4 separate regions of the Homo sapiens genome follow, and all the other regions are reported to be linked to region 1. The links are microRNA targets in miRTarBase. Many come from high-throughput screens and were not tested one by one. Region 1 holds a microRNA gene; each other region holds the end of a gene's coding sequence.

Evidence for each region. The annotated mature microRNA hsa-miR-4267 reads UCCAGCUCGGUGGCAC and lies in region 1 at 1,619-1,634, opposite strand. An mRNA with a match to its seed (bases 2 to 7 or 8) in the 3' UTR can be bound and repressed. Matches are read on the target gene's strand: a 7mer-m8 pairs with bases 2 to 8, a 7mer-A1 pairs with bases 2 to 7 and ends in A, and an 8mer does both.
Region 2: miRTarBase lists ZNF556 as a target of hsa-miR-4267. Seed matches in the 3' UTR shown: 7mer-A1 at 1,838-1,844, 7mer-A1 at 1,499-1,505 and 8mer at 918-925.
Region 3: miRTarBase lists ELMO1 as a target of hsa-miR-4267. Seed matches in the 3' UTR shown: 7mer-m8 at 1,234-1,240.
Region 4: miRTarBase lists PHETA1 as a target of hsa-miR-4267. Seed matches in the 3' UTR shown: 7mer-m8 at 2,164-2,170.

The regions. Positions count from the first base shown.
Region 1 is chr2:110,068,399-110,071,520 of GRCh38, forward strand. MIR4267 (microRNA 4267) reads right to left here and starts at 1,644; the gene lies at 1,563-1,644.
Region 2 is chr19:2,877,777-2,880,898 of GRCh38, reverse strand. It overlaps ZNF556 (zinc finger protein 556), which reads right to left. Exons shown (of 4, transcript NM_024967.3): 4 at 1-3,122. The coding sequence ends at 2,570. Among named protein-coding and RNA genes, the nearest start is that of ZNF556, 12 kb to the right of the region's middle.
Region 3 is chr7:36,853,115-36,856,114 of GRCh38, forward strand. It overlaps ELMO1 (engulfment and cell motility 1), which reads right to left. Exons shown (of 22, transcript NM_014800.11): 22 at 1-2,637. The coding sequence ends at 2,437. Among named protein-coding and RNA genes, the nearest start is that of MIR1200, 65 kb to the right of the region's middle. RefSeq lists an enhancer at 1,574-2,075.
Region 4 is chr12:111,360,007-111,363,128 of GRCh38, forward strand. It overlaps PHETA1 (PH domain containing endocytic trafficking adaptor 1), which reads right to left. Exons shown (of 3, transcript NM_144671.6): 3 at 673-3,122. The coding sequence ends at 2,672. Among named protein-coding and RNA genes, the nearest start is that of PHETA1, 7.5 kb to the right of the region's middle. RefSeq lists an enhancer at 1,750-2,406.

The sequences.
Region 1 (3,122 bases):
GAGCTGAGAACACAGACACCGTGGGCCCAGGAGTCCACCTGCCTTGAGTGTTGTGACTGCACTTGGGCAGGAGTGGAGCCAAAAAATAAAAACAGAAGCAGCCTTGGCACATAGTAGAACCTTCTTATATTTTATTTACTTCCCAACCTTTTACATGTCATGAAATGCATAGAATACAATACAATTTTTTTTTTTTTTTTTTTTTTTTTTTTTTTTTTTTTGGCAGAGAGTGGTTCCCCAAGGTGGATGCTATTCGGGGAAATCTTGCTGATCTTGCCCTCTTCCCAAATGCATGGGAAATATTACCCATTTGTCACACAAGCTGTCTGAGGACGCAGTAGCCTGTGAGGTCAGGGGAAGAGCCCTGGCTCCTCTGAACCTTCCTCTTGGTAGCACAGGCCATGGCACTTCGGCATGTCAGATCTAAGCCAGAATGCAACCTCCTCAGTCACCCACCCTGTGAGCTGTGGGCTGGCAGCCTGACCTCTCTGAGCCCAGGCGGGTGAGGAACCCTGCCCAGGTCCGTGGGGGGGTGGAAGGACCAGATGTCACGTGCCTGGCACATCCTGAGTCCCACTTCATGTCCTTTCCCTCACCCTCCGTGTTCCCTCAGCTGAGCTGGGCCCAAATCTTCATCCCAGGGAAATGGGACCCAGTGACCAACTGGGCTGTGCTACTGCAGGCACCTTTGAAATGAGCCCAGGGGAAGCAGTAAGAAAGCAGCAGGCTATGCTTGGAGAAGCGCCCGTCCTGTCCACCATCGCTCCACCTTTCTCCATCACTCCTTACCTGACCTACCCCAACACAGGTGGCCAGAGGCAGGAGGGCTCCCCAACAGCTCCTACAGGTGTTCCCTGCAGCTTCCAGCCAATTCTCACAGAGCGACAGCTGTTCTTCTGGCCTTTGCTTGGGGTCTGAGCCCAAGCACATGTATCCACATGTGCGAGTTCAGGCTGAGCTCCCACGGTGGGCAGCACCTTTTGTGTGTGTGCCTGTGCATGTGTGCACACATATGTGTGAACTGTGCAGGCTGTAATTTCCAAAACCAAATTTGGCTTTTTTTGATTTGTAAGTTATTTACATCAACGAATTTTAAAGAAGCATAAAATGAAATTAAGTTAAAGTTTTAGTGGATCACCTCTGAAAAAGAAAAACTTTCATTCTGTGAAATTGGATTTCTAGAAAATTCCAGGATTCCCCACAGTTAAAGGCACAAGGCAGGGACAAATTCTGGCCATGTCACATGCAGGGGGCATGGGTAGTAAGAGTGGGAAATGGGGTTCGGGGCTCAGTTCCCCAGCACCTTGCTCTTCCTTTTTCTGACTCTCCTGGTTTGTCTTTTCTGGTGTCTGTGAGCCCCTCAAGGGCAGAGGCCATTTCTCATTCATCCTAGCATCCAGTACCCAGGGCCCAGCCTGTCATGAGGAGGTGCCCAGCAATCTGAGCGTATTTAAGACTGGGTCCTGATTCTGTCTTTTGTCCCCTCCTTGGGTTCCCAAACTCTCTGTATTCTGCTCCTTCACATTTAAATTGACCCCCAAACAGGATCTCCCAGCCTCCTTGGAGATGTGGGCTCCATGCAGGGATGACAGAGGCTGGGGTCTGGAGCCTTCCCCCAGTGCCACCGAGCTGGAGCCTGCTGAGTTTGCAAGTCATCACGGAGAATCCTCGGCTCCTTCGGAGATACCACCCCTGGGCCTACTCTGGGTTCTGAGATGGCAGCCCTAGTGCCAACCTCATCCAGAAGTCATCACTCCCTGGGGGACTGTGAGGGTGTCATCGAATATCTGCCAATCTGCTGACAAGTAGACATCCCAATGGCCATGGAGAAAACATCCGTGCAAGGGCTTTGATCCTCCGAGGCTCCATGAGAACACTGCTATTATAATAGTTACTAAGCCTAATAAAAAGTATAATGATAGAATATATATCACGATGTTGACCCAAAATGGCAATGTTTAGTTCTTAGGGAATTCAAAGTACACAAAGTCCTTGAGAAGGACACAGCTCTCAAAGAGACTCAGGTCACCTCCCTGCAGTCGTCACCCTCCCCGGTAGCCAGTGCAGGCACAAGGATCTGCCACTCCCTGCTTAAACCCTACCCCCTTCCAGAGCTCCCCATTCCCTGTGGGAAGTCACAGGAACACCCAATCCTTGTGAGCCAGACCTTGGCCCAGACTCTCGCCAGTCACCAGCCAGCTGGCTGCTGCTGTTCCGGTGCCCTTCCTCATGCTGTTCCCAGCGGACTCTCCCCACAGGCTGCCCTTCATCCTCCAGAGCTCCACCAGGGTGATCGTAGACCAGAAGGGTCCAGGTGCTTGACCAGCAATCATTCTAGTAACTTTTGGGAGGTCACACTTTCTAGGAGGCCTCTAGTAAGTCCCTCCCCTCCACTTCCAGCTGGGGCCGGTGACCCCTCACCCTAAGACGTGAGGCCTCTAGATCTGTCTTATTCTGCTCCCAGCCTTCCAGGTTCTGGAGAGCAGGAGGCCCTGGCCCAGGAACAGGCACCCAGCAGATGCTCAGCAGCCATGTGTGCAACAGAACTAAATCTTCCAGCTTTGGCTGAAAGCAAACATCATGGCTGTCTCAGCAGGCACGTGCTCCCAGGGTTGTGTCCTTCCTGGAAGATCTCAGCTTCTCCCACATCTGTGTCTCCTGAATCCACACCAAAGGAGCCTCGTTCAGAAGGGACCCCAGGACAGGGCACGGACACCTGTAATCCCAGCACTTTGAGTGGCCAAGGCAGGCAGATGGTTGAGCCCAGGAGTTTGAGACTAGCCTGGGCAACATGGCCAAATCTGTCTCCACAAAAAACGAAAAATTAGCAAGGTGGGTGGTGCACACCTGTAGTCCCAACTACTTGGGAGGCTGAGGTGGGAGGATCGCTTGAGCCTCACAGGCCAAGGCTGCAGTGAGCTATGATCTAGCCACTGCACACCAGCCGCTGCAACAGAGTGAGACCCTGTCTGAAAAAATAAATAAATAAAAAATAAAAGGAAGGAGCCCTGGGTTTGATTCGGGCCTCACGATGTGCCCTCTCACTGCACGAAAGTGGCCCAGGGGCACACTCTGCCCCTCTCTAGGAGGTGGTAGTGACCTGGGAGGGCCTTGGAGCGGAT
Region 2 (3,122 bases), not on the chromosome of region 1:
AGAATCTGTCTCAAAAAAAAAAAAAAGAATTTCTTAGACAAAATTATAACAGTATAGGAAACAAATGTACTAGAAAGAAAATGTCTAAATCTGAATGCATCTGGTAATATTAATTCAGAAGTATAATTCTTTTTTTTGAGACGGAGTCTCGCTCTGTCACCCAGGCTGGAGTGCAGTGTCGCAATCTTGGCAAGCTCCGCCTCCCAGGTTCAAGCCATTCTCCTTCCTCAGCCTCCCGAGTAGCTGGGACTACAGGCACCTACCAGCACACCCCACTAATATTTTGTATTTTTAGTAGAGATGGGGTTTCACCGTGTTAGCCAGGATGGTCTCGATCTCTTGACCTCATGATCTGCCCGCCTTGGCCTCCCCAAAGTGCTGGGATTACAGGCGTGAGCCACTGTGCCTGGCCCAGAAGTATCATTTTTAAAGTCACCATGTTGATTTGGCAATTTTCAATATTTTAATACATTCTCCCAGTAAATAAAAAACAGAGATTGACATTTGTTAGTATACAACTTATTTGAAAAACTCAGTTAAATAGGCTATTTCTAAGAAACATTTTATCCATTTGTATAGAATCCAACTTCTTTAAAAACACAAACACAGTAAATAGATATTTCTCAGAAACAGAAACTTTTGTTTTAATAATACATAATCAAACATAATAACTGAACACATACTGAGAGATTGTATTCAGCTCTATGTGACAGGAAATTTCCAGAGTTTACCTGATAAGCCAGTATTGTCTTTCATTTTCTCATGAAAGGTAAGATTTATCTCACGAAGAATACTAGGTCACAGTAGATGCAGTAGGGAAACAATCCCCTGTGCTTTTTTAAAAAATTATTCTTTATTTATTTATTTTTGAGACAGAGTCTCGCTCTTTCGCCCAGGCTGGAGTACAGTGGCACGATTCCAGCTCACTGCAAGCTTCGCCTCCCAGGTTCACGCCATCCTCCTGCCTCAGCCTCCCGAGTAGCTGGGACTACAGGCGCCCGCCACCACACCTGGCTAATTTTTTGTATTTTTAGTAGAGACGGGGTTTCACCATGATAGCCAGGATGGTCTCGATTTCCTGACCTCGTGATCCGCCCACCTCAGCCTCCCAAAGTGCTGGGATTACAGGCGTGAGTCACCGCGCCCAGCCGCAATCCCCTGTGTTTTTATGGTTGTACCATTGTATCTGTCATGGAAGCAGGAACACAGAAGCACAAGAAATACTGAGACAATGAGGTATTAAGATAATGATAATATGGCCAGGCATAGTGGCTCACACCTGTAATCCCAGCACTTTGGGAGGCCAAGGCGGGCAGATTTCAGGAGTTTGAGACCACCCTGGCCAACATGGTGAAACCCCGTCTCTACTAAAAATACAAAAATTAGCTGGACATGGTGGTGCATGCCTATAGTCCCAGCTACTTGGGAGGCTGAGGCAGGAGAATCGCTTGAAACCGGGAGGCGGAAGTTGCAGTGAGCCGAGATCGTGCCGTTGCACTCCAGCTTGGGCAACATAACAGGACTCTGTCTCAAAAAAGAAAAAGAAAAAAAACCCAAAAAAACCTATTTTCCAATTCCAACCCAGAAGCCAGGTCAAAGAGCAAACAGCAACAGATGAAAAAAATAGTTCCCACGAGACTACACTCCTCCAAGAATTTGCATGCATACGTATTTCTACCAACTACCTATTAGTCCACAAGCAAAATGAAGAAGGATTCTCTGACCAATAGCATAAAGCCACTGAATTACTTGCCTGTATAAGTAGAAAGTATTAACATTAAAAATAGTTTTTCCCTGTAAAATGGAAAGGTGGAATAAAAGTAACATGGTAGTAATATCCAGCTTGGAACACACAGGGCCAGTCAGAAAATGTCAACAAACACCCATATTTCATTGGTCTAATGGCCTCACACGGAGTAACAAAAAAAATATATAAAAATTAAAGTTAATGCATATTAAAATACATCAGATCACCCATGGGTGCAATACACTTCTAAATGAAAAGAGAAACATTAGTAATTTATAAGAAAAAACCATTATGTATCAAAATTTCAGTACTATAGGTGAGAGAGGACTTACAGGATTCTCCCCTCAACTTTACCTGCAAGAGAACTGCAAATTCATTTGCTAGAGGCCCACTTTTAGGATGTGGTCCTGATAAAGGCAATACCATATTTATAAACGTCATGAGATTCTTCTCCTGCCATGAATTTTCTTTTTTTGGAGATGGAGTCTCGCTCTGTCACCCAGGCTGGAGTGCAGTGGTGCCATCTCGGCTCACTGCAAGCTCCGCCTCCCGGGTTCACGCCGTTCTCCTGCCTCAGCCTCCTGAGCAGCTGGGACTACAGGTGCCCGCCACCACGCCCGGCTAATTTTTTGTATTTTTTTTTTTTTTAGTAGAGACGGGGTTTCACCATAGCCAGGATGGTCTTGATCTCCTGACCTCGTGATCCGCCTGCCTCGGCCTCCCAAAGTGCTGGGATTACAGGCGTGAGCCACTGCGCCCGGCCCTCCTGCTGTGAATTTTCTGAACCATGTATGTGAATTAATTTGCACAGGTTTTCCCCCATTACTTAGATGTACAGGATTTCTTTCCTGTGTGACTTCTCACATGACCTTGAAAGGCTTTGGGACAACTGAAAGCTTTCCCACATTTTTCGCATTTACTGGGCTTCTGTCCAATCTGCGTTCTTACATTTTTGGAAGAGCAAAGCCCGCCTGAAGGTTTTCCCACACTGGCTGCATTTACAGGTTTCTCCCCAGTGTGCTTTCTCTCATGTTTGTGTAAAGATGAGGACCAACCATACGTTTTCCCACACGTTTCACATTTATAGACTTTCTCTCTAGTTTGTGATTTGACATCTGTGGAGGGGCGAGGCCTCGCGGAAGACTTTCCCACGCTGCCCCCACTCACAGGTTTCTTTTTAGCATGCGTTCTCGCGTGTTTGTGTAAGGATGAGGGCCAACCGAATGCTTTCCCGCATTTTCCACACTTATAGGGTTTCTCCCCGTTGTGAATTCTCACGTGTCGTTGAAAGGATGTTGCCCAGCAGTAGGCTTTCCCACACTGCTTGCACTCATACGGTCTCCCTCCGGCGTGCATGATCATATGGACTCGAAAG
Region 3 (3,000 bases), not on the chromosome of region 1:
GTGAGGTGGCCAAATATGGGCAACAATCCTTCCCCACATGGTCACAAAATGAATGGAAACAGATGGCATACTCTTCAGATCTCACAGGTCCAAAGGAGGGTCTAGGGAGGAGCTGGAGAATGCTGCCTTTCATAGTCCTGAAAAGGTTTCTTTCTATTAAATGCACCAAAGCTGGAGTGCCAGAAGAGAGAGGGGCTGGATCTCCCCAACCAAGGTCACAGGACAGATACATTTCTTAAACCCAGTGTCTCAGGACCTCAGAGATCCTGGTCCAGAAAGTTCCCTTTTTCATGGATTGGATCTTGTAACCCATAAGAAAAAAATAATATGACTTTGTTTGCTGCCTTTGACCTAACACTTACTGTTTTATCATGATGATGGGTAGATTAATAACTGCTCCTGATAGCAAGTACATGTTAATAACATCGAAGCTTAATGATCAAGGAATTAACAGCTTGACACAGGTGTGAGTGCTCTGATGGGAAGAAGGAACCCCTGTGAATGCAAAGGACTTTTTTCCTGCAATGCATGCAGTGCTCTGGACCATATCATCTCAACCCAGGTCAATCTGTAATTGCACATCCTGATGACGGTAAAGAGAAATGACCTGGATGCTTCCACAGCTTGTGCTGTGAGGCCAGAGTGGCTGGTGCTGTGCCACGCTTAATACTGCATGCTTGGACCCTTCTGACATCCCTCCCAGTGCTGGGAGTTTACAATCCTGATAATGCCTCCAGTGCAAATGACTTAAGAAACATCCTTCGCTGGGCTCTGACCTATAATTTATTAACCCACGGTTAGATTTATTTAGTTCTGGCTTATTTCAGGTCTGTGGGTATGCATTCTTTTCATTGCTAAATGTGCTCCCTCAAAGTTGTGATGTCTTTAATTAGACCCATTCTATAAATTATATCATGGTAAGAAAGAAAAAAGAGAAAGTCATGGTCAAGAGACAGCAATGTAAAAGGAATAGATATTTTCATACAGTGGGTCTGATTTTCTCAGTGAGTCGAGATGGTCTTCTTAGAAGTAACATTCTCCACTGATGCTCAGAGCCTATGGTGACCTAGCAATGGTGGAGGGTTTCCCACAGCAGTGTTTTTCAAACCAATGTACATAAACATCACCCAATTCAGCAGGTCTAGGGTGGAGCTGAAGAGCTGGCATCTCCAACAAGCTCCCAGGTGATGCTGATGACTGAGTAGCAAGAACCTAAGTTACTAAATCAAAACACCAGCTCCCCAAATCATCACAATCCATTTTATTCCACAGCATGTTTAAGGGAATGTTATTTTCAGGAAGATGTTTGGGATTAAAATAATTAAAAAAAAACTGGAAATTCACACATTTATGTATCTCTTCTTTTCATTAAATATATATCTGTTTGGCAAAAAATGTTAGACTCTTTTGTACAAAAACAAAGCAAAAAAAAAAAAAAAAACTAACCCAAAACTCTTGCAAATTGTAAATACCAGTAATAATTACAATGATGTAAACTTGGATGTCTGACAGCTTGACCATCCTGTGGAACTTGAGTTGCAGCAGGACCTCCCAGGAGAAGGTAACACCAAACGCTTGGATAGCAACAGTCCGTCCTAGAGGCATTTAGGTTTAGTCTATTAGAGATGGAGCGAGACTACTGATTTCACCATTTGTGCTTTCAGCTAAGAGGCTGGGAGCGTGGGTGGAAATGAAGAAGGCAGTTCTGGCCTGGGGCAGGGAGAGGAAACCCCAGACTAGCTGGTGAGGAGGGAAGATTTGTCACGATCACAGTGCAGACGCAAAGTGGGCATGGGACCTGTGGACTGTTTGGGAAATTTATGCTAGGGAGGATCACGAGGAGGCTGCGGCTGCTGCTCTTGGGACCAAAGAGGAACAGAGCAAGGCAAAAGCAGGGAGAGAGGTGGGAGGAGATTTGAGCGCAGATCTTAATTCAAGTGTAACTGGTGGTGCGAGATGATTCTAGAGAGAGGGGAAAGGAGGATGTGGGGTTTGGTCTTCTCATCAAATAGCTAGGCCATTTCCTCCAGACAGGGGCCTTGGGGCACTGCCCTTGGTCTGGTGGGCAAGTTTTTGGGCAGTCTGGGGCTGCTGGCTTTCCTGCCCAAGGGAAGGAAGGGCATGCCTGCAGAGGGCTAGGATGGAAGGGCCCTTTGGCCTTCTTACTGGCAGTGGGCTTTGCTCTTGTCCCACCAGTGGACTGCAGCCATGGGAAGTGACCTGAAGCAGTGGAGCCGAGGAACAGAATCAGGGCGGTGAGCAAGATGCCAGCTAGGGGCTGAAAGTTGCCAGGGCTAGAGGTGATGCTGAAGGGAATGTGGACCCACAGCTTCCCTTTACCAAAGGACGGTTCCAAGGCGTGGGTGTGTTTTCATTCCTCTCTCCTGTTAGCTAGGTGTTCCAGTTTTGGAAGGGGCATGTCTGGGCCCGGCCACTTCAGTTACAGTCATAGACGAAGTCATAGTTGCTGGGCTCCTTGGGAATCGGCGGAGGTGCGTCAGGGATCTGGATGTTTTCCAGGTCCAGGAGGCGGAGCTTGATTTCCATGCTGAGCAGGGTGTCCAGGTCATTCCGCGTCAGGTCGCTCATCATGTCCTTCCCGAGTAGCGCATTCAGTCCATCCGTCCAGATACAGTACTGGCAGGAAGGGAGGCAACAGCGATCATTACTGGTGGCAATTACAGAAGTATTAATAGTAAAAATAGCTAACAGTGAATACTCATCCCTCAGTAGGCTGTGCGCTAAGGGCTCTGCCTACTTCGTCATTTCATATTTGGCGACATCTCAATATAAAGTCGATACTTCTGTTATCTCTGTTTTATAGGTGAAGGAACTGAGGTACAGAGAAGTGACTCAGTATTATGTAGACCGGGTGGGATTTGAACCCAGGCAATCTGACTCCAGTGCCTGTGCTCTTCTTTGCAAAGAATGCTTCTCTGTAACAGCTGAGGATTGGAGTTCTCCATGACTTGCAATGTAACACCTAGGTGGGAGTCTATG
Region 4 (3,122 bases), not on the chromosome of region 1:
CATCATGCTAGGCCACCTTGAGCCAGCCCCTTCTGTGAACCCATTAACCCAGTAGACAGACTCAATCAGTCAGAGAGCGGATACATGGCATGAGCACCACTACCAGCCACATGGTGCTCACGGCAGATTTTACTAATCAATCACAGACTCTTTCCCTCTGAACTTGCATTGGTGCTAGAATCCTCTTCACTCCAGCTCCCTCCACAGCCTCCATGAACTTATCAGTGAGAAGCACGCAGTTTCGACTCTTCCATCTGCCATCCTGATCAGGATTGTTAATGTCCCTCCCAACTCTCAGGTCTTCAGCCCAGTTAGCTTTCAAATCTTTGGCTTCTCCCTGCCTTCTCTACCTTCTGAAAAGGAACTTTGGGCTCCGTTTTCCCTCATATTCCTCCTGAAGACTCTGTCCTGTCACGGGATTTCAGAGATTTACATCCCTGCTCTTATACTCTCTAGCTATGTGGCTTTGGCAAGTTTCATAACCTCAGTGAGCCTGTTTCCACATCTGTAAAACGGGACCAGCATCTGCCTTGAGAAGTGAGAACGTGCCTGGCAGGGCACCAGCCATGTGGGACCACACACTAGTCCCTGCCCTTGCACAGCCTGCTCTGGGCTCTGCCAGGGAAATCAATCAAGGATTTTGATGGGGAAAAAAAATGACACAATCAGCCATTACTTGACAAAATTTTACTTTAGCCCTTGCATCTCCCTGCCAGGCTGCCGGACAGCTCCCCCGACACCCAACCCAGGAGGCAGCCTGATCCCACCTTGTGCTTTGGTAGGGGACATCCCTCACCCCTCTCTCCCAGGAGACCAGGGCCAACGTACCTTGAGAGTCTGTAAACCTACGCCAGGACTGGGGTTAACACCCCAGCCCACCAGCTGAGTCTGCCAGGACACGGGGCTCTGGGAAGCTCTGAACCCCTCCCATGCCCCAGATCCTGTGCCACCCACACCCACACCACTCAGGACTCTGGAAGGAGGTGAGCGGGGACCATACCAAGACCCCAGAGGTGCCTGTGGAGAGCAGGGCTTGCTGGGGGGAAGACAATGAAGCAGCCAAGGATCCCTCTCGAGGGGCTCTGTCTCTGGCTGTGCTTCTCCAGCCCAAGCTGCCCCTCTCCCCGGGGGCAGTGACAACTGTTCCCCCAGAGCAAGTCCAGAGTCACAGACCGTATCCCCTCCCACCAGCAAACAGGAAACTAAAGCAGTGAAAACATCAAGCTTTGTTGCCAGAGAAAAAAAAATGAACCCTAAGTATTTAAAATTCAGACGGAAGTCCCAGCCCACCGGGCCAGCCGTGAGCTGCAGAGGCCTTGATTGCAGACACACACCCCTCCATATTTCCCCAAGCTCAAGGGTCTCCAGAGACAGAAGGAAGGGGTTTTGGGCTGAGTCTGTCACCAAGAGGCAGCGTTTGGGAAAATCAAGGTCAGGGTGGAGGTGTCCTCAGGGGGCCACCGGTGTGGGGCACTGAGGACTGTAAACATGACCCAGGGTGAGGGCCAGGAGGTGTCCCAGCCCCGAGGTTCTCCCTGGATGAAAAATGGGCACTGTGGTGAGAAGAAAGGGGACCGGCGGTCAGCCCCGAAGCCAAGCAAGACCTGGTCCCCACCAGGAGTATGGGGGTGGGGGCTGAGCTCAGGAGGGGACATGTTAGAGGGGGCTGCCTGGAGCTGAAGAGGGGCTCTGGAAGCCACACTCGGTGTGCGGCTTTTTCTCCGCCACTAGGTCAGCACCTGGGCCTTCCTAGGCGGTGAGTCAGCTGGTGGCCTCCCCTCCCTGGGGGAACCTGCTAGAAGGTCACCTCGGGCCATGGCTACCCAGCCCAGGAAGGGAGGTCAGGCAAGCTCCCAAGGGGCCCCAGGCCTAGGGGCCAAGACTGAAGGATGCAGTCAAGGAGTGTCTGGAGAGCCCTGTGAGAGCCACCACGGAGACACAGACAGGGCCCGCGGCCAGAGAGCCACTGCCACCAGGAGCACCACCATGAGGCCTGGCAGGGGACTTTTGGCAGAGTCCTGCCTCAGCCAGCCCAGGCCAGGAGCCCCGAGGACCAGGCCACCTCACCCTTCCGGTCCTGCACTAACACCTGCACCTGTGTCCCCAGTCACTACCCTCCCAGCCACCGTCCTGCTCCTGGAGGCAGGCAGGCACAGAGCCAGGCCAGCTCCTCTGGCAGGTCCCGGAGCAAGGCCAGGCCCAGGTGTGGCTGCCATGACCGATCCTCCCTCTGTCCACCCTGAAGGCCTGGTCAGGAGCTGCACTAACTGTGCATTTGCTTTTCAGGCCACAGATCGCCCTCAGTCCCAGTGACCCTCTGAGCTGCAGGCCCGGCAATGCCTGTTGCCAGCACAGGCCTCTGCCCGGCAGCTCAGGCCAGCCTGGGGCCGGAGTTCTCAGGAAACCTCCCCCTCAGGCCCTGGATTCTCCTTAGTGTTGCACGTGACGTTCCCCTCAAGGGTAGGCCTTCTGGGTCACATGGTCCTAAAGGCCCACTCAGAATCCAGCACCTTCTCAGAGCCTGCATCCCCCAAAACCAGGCCACTCAGGGCCTGGGGGCCAGCCTTGCCCATGATTTCCCTCAGGATCTGCTCCCCCAGTCTCTCCAGGACCCGGCCTGTCCCAGAGGGCATAGAGCTTGTGTCCCCCTAAAACAGGCGCCCTGGTGGCCTCAGGGCTGGACCCGGCTGCTGAGCCACTGGCCACGCAGGGCCCGGATCTCCTGGCCATAGCACTCGTGCAGCCGGGCGAAGGGGGCCATGTCCAGGGGCCCGTGGGGTGCCGAGGCCCGGCGGCGAGGCGGTGGTGGAGGGGGCTCGGGTCCAGGCCTGAAGGTGGCCTCAGTGCTCCAGACAGCGCAGCCATTCTCCTTGGGCGGGAGGGCACTGGGCCGGCGGGGCAGGGGCAGGGCTGGGACCGGGGCTGGGGCAGAAGGCAGGGATGGGACTGGGGCCAGGGCAGAGGGCAGGGACGGGGGCAAGGGCAGGGACTGGGGCTGGGGCTGGGGCAGGGCCATGCCACCCCCGCCACGTACAGCCGCCAGCTGCTGCTCCAGCTCGCGCACCACCAGCCGCAGGTAGTCGAAGCTGGCACGCGACAGGGCCTTGACCCAGCCCTCCATG